Regions from separate parts of the Homo sapiens genome. Here region 2 is linked to region 1. A link means that fine-mapping ties the variant in region 1 to the plasma level of a protein whose gene starts in the linked region. Region 1 holds a variant in brackets. A gene starts in the other region. All regions are shown on their reverse strands.

Region 1 (2,925 bases):
CTGGCCAACATAGTGAAACCCCGTCTCTACTACAAATACAAATTAGCTCCTCATCTCTACTAAAAATACAAAAAATTAGCTGGCCATGGTGGCGGGTGCCTGTAACCCCAGCTACTCGGGAGTCTGCGGCAGGAGAATCGCTTGAACTCGGGAGACAGAGGTTGCAGTGAGCCAAGATCGTGCCACTGCACTCCAGCCCGGGTAACAGTGCAAGACTCCATCTCAAAAAAAAAAAAAAAAAAAAGACTGGAAGTATTAAATGGAGAAAAAAAAGAGGTGAGTACATAAAATTACACTGGGTTTGGAGACTGGAGGCTAGAGAAATCAGGATGAAGAACCATGCTTTGATGCTCCAACCATCGGGATCTCAGTAAGTGGTTTCTAATTCCAAAGCATGGTAGAGACATACATTGACAACAAAATGCTCAACAACAGAATTCTCTGAAAGAAGGGCACAATCTCATTTCAAACATTTGGCATCCTCTTAAGTTGCAGGCACTCTGAACCATATGCACACCCTATCCTCAAGGAATTTACTGTCTATCTAGTAGGGGAGATCTGCCTATAAATATATATTCATACAAAATTATACACAACTAGCATTTATTTGCTTACTGTGTACTAGACATTGTTCTAAGATTGTTGCATACTACATATATTAATTTATCCCATAGGACTGTTCTACTAATATCCCAACTGTGCAGATGTGGCACAGACAGGTTTAAGTGATGTATCCTGGGATACACAATTAGTAACTGGACATATTGGATTAGAAACTCAGGCAGTAGGCCAGGCTCGGTGGCTCACGCCTGTAATCCCAGCACTTTTGGAGGCCAAGGCAGGCTGATCACCTGAGGTCAGGAGTTCGAGACAAGCCTGACCAACATGGAGAAACCTTGTCTCTACTAAAAATACAAAATTAGCCAGGTGTGGTGGTGCACACCTGTAGTCCCAGCCACTCGGGAGGCTGAGGGGTAACAAGAGCGAAACTCCGTCTTAAAAAAAAAAAAAAAAAGAAAGAAAGAAAGAAAGAAAGAAACCCAGATTACAAGGGACCTTATGCCCTTGCTAAAAGGTCTCAAATATACCGTATCTGTTGGTGGTTCCCAGCTGGAAATATATACACCTACCAGGCTCCTGAGTGGGGTAGAGAGCATCTCCACTGTTGAGGATGATTGCCATTATAAGCCTTTGTTGTTTTCCTCCCGAGACAGGGTCTTGTTCTGTCACCCAGATTGGAGTGCAGGTACATGATCATAAGCTCACTGCAGCCTCGAACTCCTGGGCTCAAACAATCCTCCCACCCGCAGCCTCTAGGGCTAGGGCTGCAGGCGTGGGCCACCAGGCCCAGCTTAGTTACTTACTTATTTATTTAGAGATAGGGTCTCACCCAAGCTGGAGTGCAGTGGCACGATCACGGCTCACAGCCAACCTCTGCCTCCCAGGCTAAAGGAATCCTCCCACCTCAGCTGGGACCACAGGCATGTATCACCACACCCAGCTAATTTTTTATATTTTTTGTAGAGATGGGGTTTTGCTACGTTGCCCAGGCTGGTCTCGAACTCCTAGGCTCAAGAGATCCGCCTGCCTCAGCCTCCCAAAGTACTGGGATTACAGGCGTGAGCCACTGTGCCTGGCAATTTTTTTAATAGTTTTTGTAGAGACAGGGTCTCGCCATGTTGCCCAGGCTGGTCTAGAACTCCTGCGCTCAAAAGATTCATCCTCCTTGGCCTCCTACAGTGCTAGGATTACAGGCGTGAGCCACCACAGCCCAGCTGCCTTTTTTACTTTTGAGAGGGCATCCTATCTATCCTCCAGATGTTGAGGGTAAAACAAAACAAAAACAAACCAAAAAAACCATCCTGCTGTTATATAGATGACAG[G/A]GAGTTAATGGGCTCACAGGCAGACAACTCCAAAAACTACTCACAAGGAAGGAAATGCAGCTGTGAGTTCAGTCATACTATTTGAGAAGGTGCTCATCTCTCTCTCTTAAATGTGAAGCTCAGTGCTAGCTAGACAGGTAGGCTCAAAGCCCCATTACATCTCTTGGCCTTTCCCCTAGCGCCACCACCAAATTTCTAATTTCCATACATGCTATGTGCTTCAACTGTAAATAGTTTTCTTTTACAAACTCAGATACCTCTTGGCAGGTTAACACTGTTCAACATACCACTCTGGACAACCACAGCCTCTGCACCCTCTCTACTTTCTTTTTTTTTTTTTTAATTTTTATTTTTTGAGATGGAGTCTTGCTCTGTCACCCAGGCTGGGGTGCAGTGGCACTATCTCGGCTCACTGCAACCACCGCCTCCCAGGTTCAAGCAATTCTCCTGCCTCAGTCTCCCGAGTAGCTGGGATTACAGCCATGCACCACTATGCGTGGCTAATTTTTGTATTTTTAGTAGAAATGCGGTTTCGCCATGTTGCCCAGGCTGGTCTCAACATCAAGTGATCCACCCCCCTCCGCCTCCCAAAAGGCTGGGATTACAGGAGTGTGCCACCACACCTGGTCCACTGCTTTCAAAATAACTATATTTACAAGGGTATTTCCCCCATTTGCATTTCCCACACGTAGGTTTTGAGAAGAGATCAAGAATGCCCTTTACCACATTTTACCTGTCCTTTTTTCCCCTTTCAAACAAACTGGTCTAGGGGCCAAGCACAGAGGCTCAAGCCTGTAATCCCAGCACTTTGGGAGGCCAAGGCAGGCAGATCACTTAAGGTCAGGAGTTTGAGACCAGCCTGGCCAACATGGTAAAACCCAGTCTCTTCTAAAATACAAAAATCAGCCAGGCGTAGTGGTGCATGCGCTCCTCGGAAGGCAAAGGCAGAAGAATCACTTCAACCTGGGAGGCAGAGGGTGCAGTGAGCCGAGATCGCGCCACTGCACTCCAGCAGCCAGGGTGACAGAGCGAGACACCATCT
Region 2 (2,925 bases), not on the chromosome of region 1:
CTCACATTGTCAATCTAATTCACATAAAATACGTCTTACCTCAAGCTTTAATAAATATTAGCTAAAGGTACAAGACATAAATATTAGTATGTGTCACTTAAATATCTGGGAGCCGAAAATCTGCACATTTTTGCTTCAGAGAGACATTTATGAACAGAGTGTGGAAAAAAGTCTGCAGAGAAGTCACTACATGTTGTAGTCTTTCAGGTTTAATATCTCTAATTTCCAAAAATGAAATAAAAATTGAGTGTAGGAAGTAAAGACTTGAAAATATGGGAATCTAAAAATTCACATGGAAGAGGCAATAAATTTCTTATACATAGCACGTATGTAACTCTAAGATGAATCACTGATGGATGATACTTGTGGAAGGACTCAAGAGATAAGTAAAATTTTCATGGGTGAAGTTATTAAAAGAGAAATATTTAGAAAGCAACAGAACAGAACAGACAGTCTCTATAACTGTGATTATTTGTGTCTTTAATTTCTGCTTATCTCTTTTGCCAAATCACATTAAGGTGGCATGATGGAATTGCATTGTGTATGGAGGGTATGCTTGAAGTAGCAAATTAAAATGTTGATTGCTGGTGTATAAACTTTATTTTGAGTCAACTTGGTGAAAAGCATAAAGTTTTTGAGAAGTTGAATTAAAAATTAGTATTAAAGGCTGGGCGCGGTGGCTCATGCCTATAATCCCAACACTTTGGAAGACTCAGGTGGGTGGATCACCTGAGGTCAGGAGTTCAAGACCAGCCTGGCCAACATGGTAAAACCCCATCTCTACTAAAAACGCAAAAAATTAGCCAGGCATGGTGGCGGGCACCTATAATCTCAGCTACTCAGGAGGCTGAGGCAGGAGAATTGCTTGAACCTGGGAGGCAGAGGTTGCAGTGAGCCGAGATCATGCCATTGCACTCCAGCCTGGGCAACAACAGTGAAACTCCGTCTCAAAAAAAAAAAATAGCATTAAAACACCATATTCTATGAATGATAAGGAGGTGAATGGCAGCAAATATTCACTAATTTGAAATTATTAATTTTAATTGAGTATGCATATTTCCTCAGAGAATGTCCTTAAGAAATTATATCAGACAAAATATTACAAGTAAGTGTTAGTTCCACATTGATAAATGGGAGAGAGAGAGATTATCTCATAGTAAATTTGTAAGATTAAATGAAGGAACATAGATAAAACATTCTGTATAGTGCCGGAAACTGGTGTTTCTTAAATGGTAAGAGAGGTTGTTATTTTTAAATCATTATTAATATTGAAAGAGAGGACAGGTGAGAGAGATACAGAGACGGAGAAAGAAAAGCACCCAAATACTGAAACAGTCCAATAACACAATGGAACAGGATACGGGAAACTACCATGTTAATTCACACCAATTGAAAAAATGAAATTAAATTCCATACCTTTAAATGTAAGTTGAGATGTTTGGGCAGAACTCCTTTTCTTTGACTGTACATTCAATGTCATGTATCTTTCTTCATCTTGCATCTTCAATGTGAGTGAATGTGTGTGTATACAGGTATGTTTTGTTTTATTAAGTATAACATGAAATGAGGAAAGAATAATAAATCTGCTGCTAATCAGAGATGCTCCTCAAATTGTCCTTTCACAGTACATATGAGGGTTCACAGTTTCACTTATTTGTGAAAACCTCAGAGGAAATGTTTTCTTTTTAAAAGTTGCTTTCCCATGACATAGATAACACATAATTTCTCAACTGTCCACCACATATTGAATTGAATATTCTTTTGAGTGCTTTACAAATTTCTCTTAATTTACCCTTAAAGTCAAGGGAATGGAAATTATGCCCCTTTTTGAGGTGAGGTTAATAATATATAGCTGCCTTTTGTTATAGCCTAAATATTTATATCATTTGAATTAGCCTCCCTAACATATTGATATTTAATTTAATAATTTGCAATTGCCAAGCAATTAAATTCTTTATCCTAAAACAATATTGTTTATAAATCATGCTAATAATTTAACAGTATAATTTGATTTTTTTTAACTTTTAGGTTCAGGGCTACATGTGTAGGTTTGTTATATAGGTAAAATCATGTCACAGGGGTTTGTTGTACATATTATTTCATCACCCAGGTATTCAGACTAGTACTACATAGTTATGTTTTTCTGATCCTGCCCCTCCTCTCACCCTCCACCTTCAAGTAGGCTCCGGTGTCTGTCATTCTCCTCTATGTGTACATGTGTTCTCATCATTTAGATCCCAATTATTAGTGAGAACATGTGGTATTTGGTTTTCTGTTCCTCCATTAGTTTGTTAAGGGTAACGGCCTCTAGCTTCATCTATGTTCCTGCAATGGACATCATCTCATTCTTTTTTATAGCTGCATAGTATTCCTTTGTATATGTGTATCACATTTTCTTTATCCAGTCTACCATTGATGGGCATTTAGGTTGATTGCATGTCTTTGCTATTGTCAACAGTGCTGCCATGAACAGATGCATGCATGTGTCTTTATGATAGATTTATATTCCTTTGGGTATATACCAGTAATGGGATTGCTGGGTCAAATTTCTGGTTTTAGGTCTTTAAGGAATCACCATGCTATCTTTCATAATGGTTGAACTAATTTACACTCCCATCAAAGGTGTATAAGTGAACCCTTTTCTCCACTACCTCATCAGCATCTGTTATTTTTTGACTTTTTAATAATAGCCATTCGACTGGTATGAGATGGTATCTTACTGTGGTTTTAATTTGCATTTCCCTAATGATTAGTGCCTACTGGAGGATAGAGGGTGGGAAGAGGGAAAGGATCAGGAAAAATAACTAATGGGTACTAGGGTTAATACCTGGGTGAAGAAATAATCTTTACAGCAAACCCCCATTACACAAGTTTACCTATGTAACAAATTTGCACATGTACTCCCAAATTTAAAATAAAATTTTA

Alleles and levels. Alleles are on the strand shown, and positions count from the first base shown. The strength of an association depends on the size of the effect and on how common the allele is.
For the plasma level of the protein whose gene starts at base 1,565 in region 2, allele G in region 1 goes with a higher level than allele A (weak association).

The links. PIP is the posterior inclusion probability: the model's chance that the variant is causal. The UK Biobank Pharma Proteomics Project read protein levels with antibody pairs (Olink). The fine-mapping took linkage between variants from a reference panel, not from the people measured, so its PIPs are less certain.
Region 2: it holds the start of KLRF1, and the variant in region 1 is fine-mapped to the plasma level of the KLRF1 protein (UK Biobank, PIP above 0.99).

What each region holds. Positions count from the first base shown.
Region 1 is chr1:24,748,527-24,751,451 of GRCh38, reverse strand. The region is part of intron 1 of CLIC4 (chloride intracellular channel 4); the gene reads right to left. Among named protein-coding and RNA genes, the nearest start is that of CLIC4, 4.5 kb to the right of the region's middle. RefSeq lists a silencer at 1,893-1,972. The variant G/A (reference allele first, on the strand shown) is at 1,884.
Region 2 is chr12:9,826,121-9,829,045 of GRCh38, reverse strand. It overlaps KLRF1 (killer cell lectin like receptor F1), which reads right to left and starts at 1,565. Exons shown (of 6, transcript NM_016523.3): 1 at 1,417-1,565. The coding sequence starts at 1,501.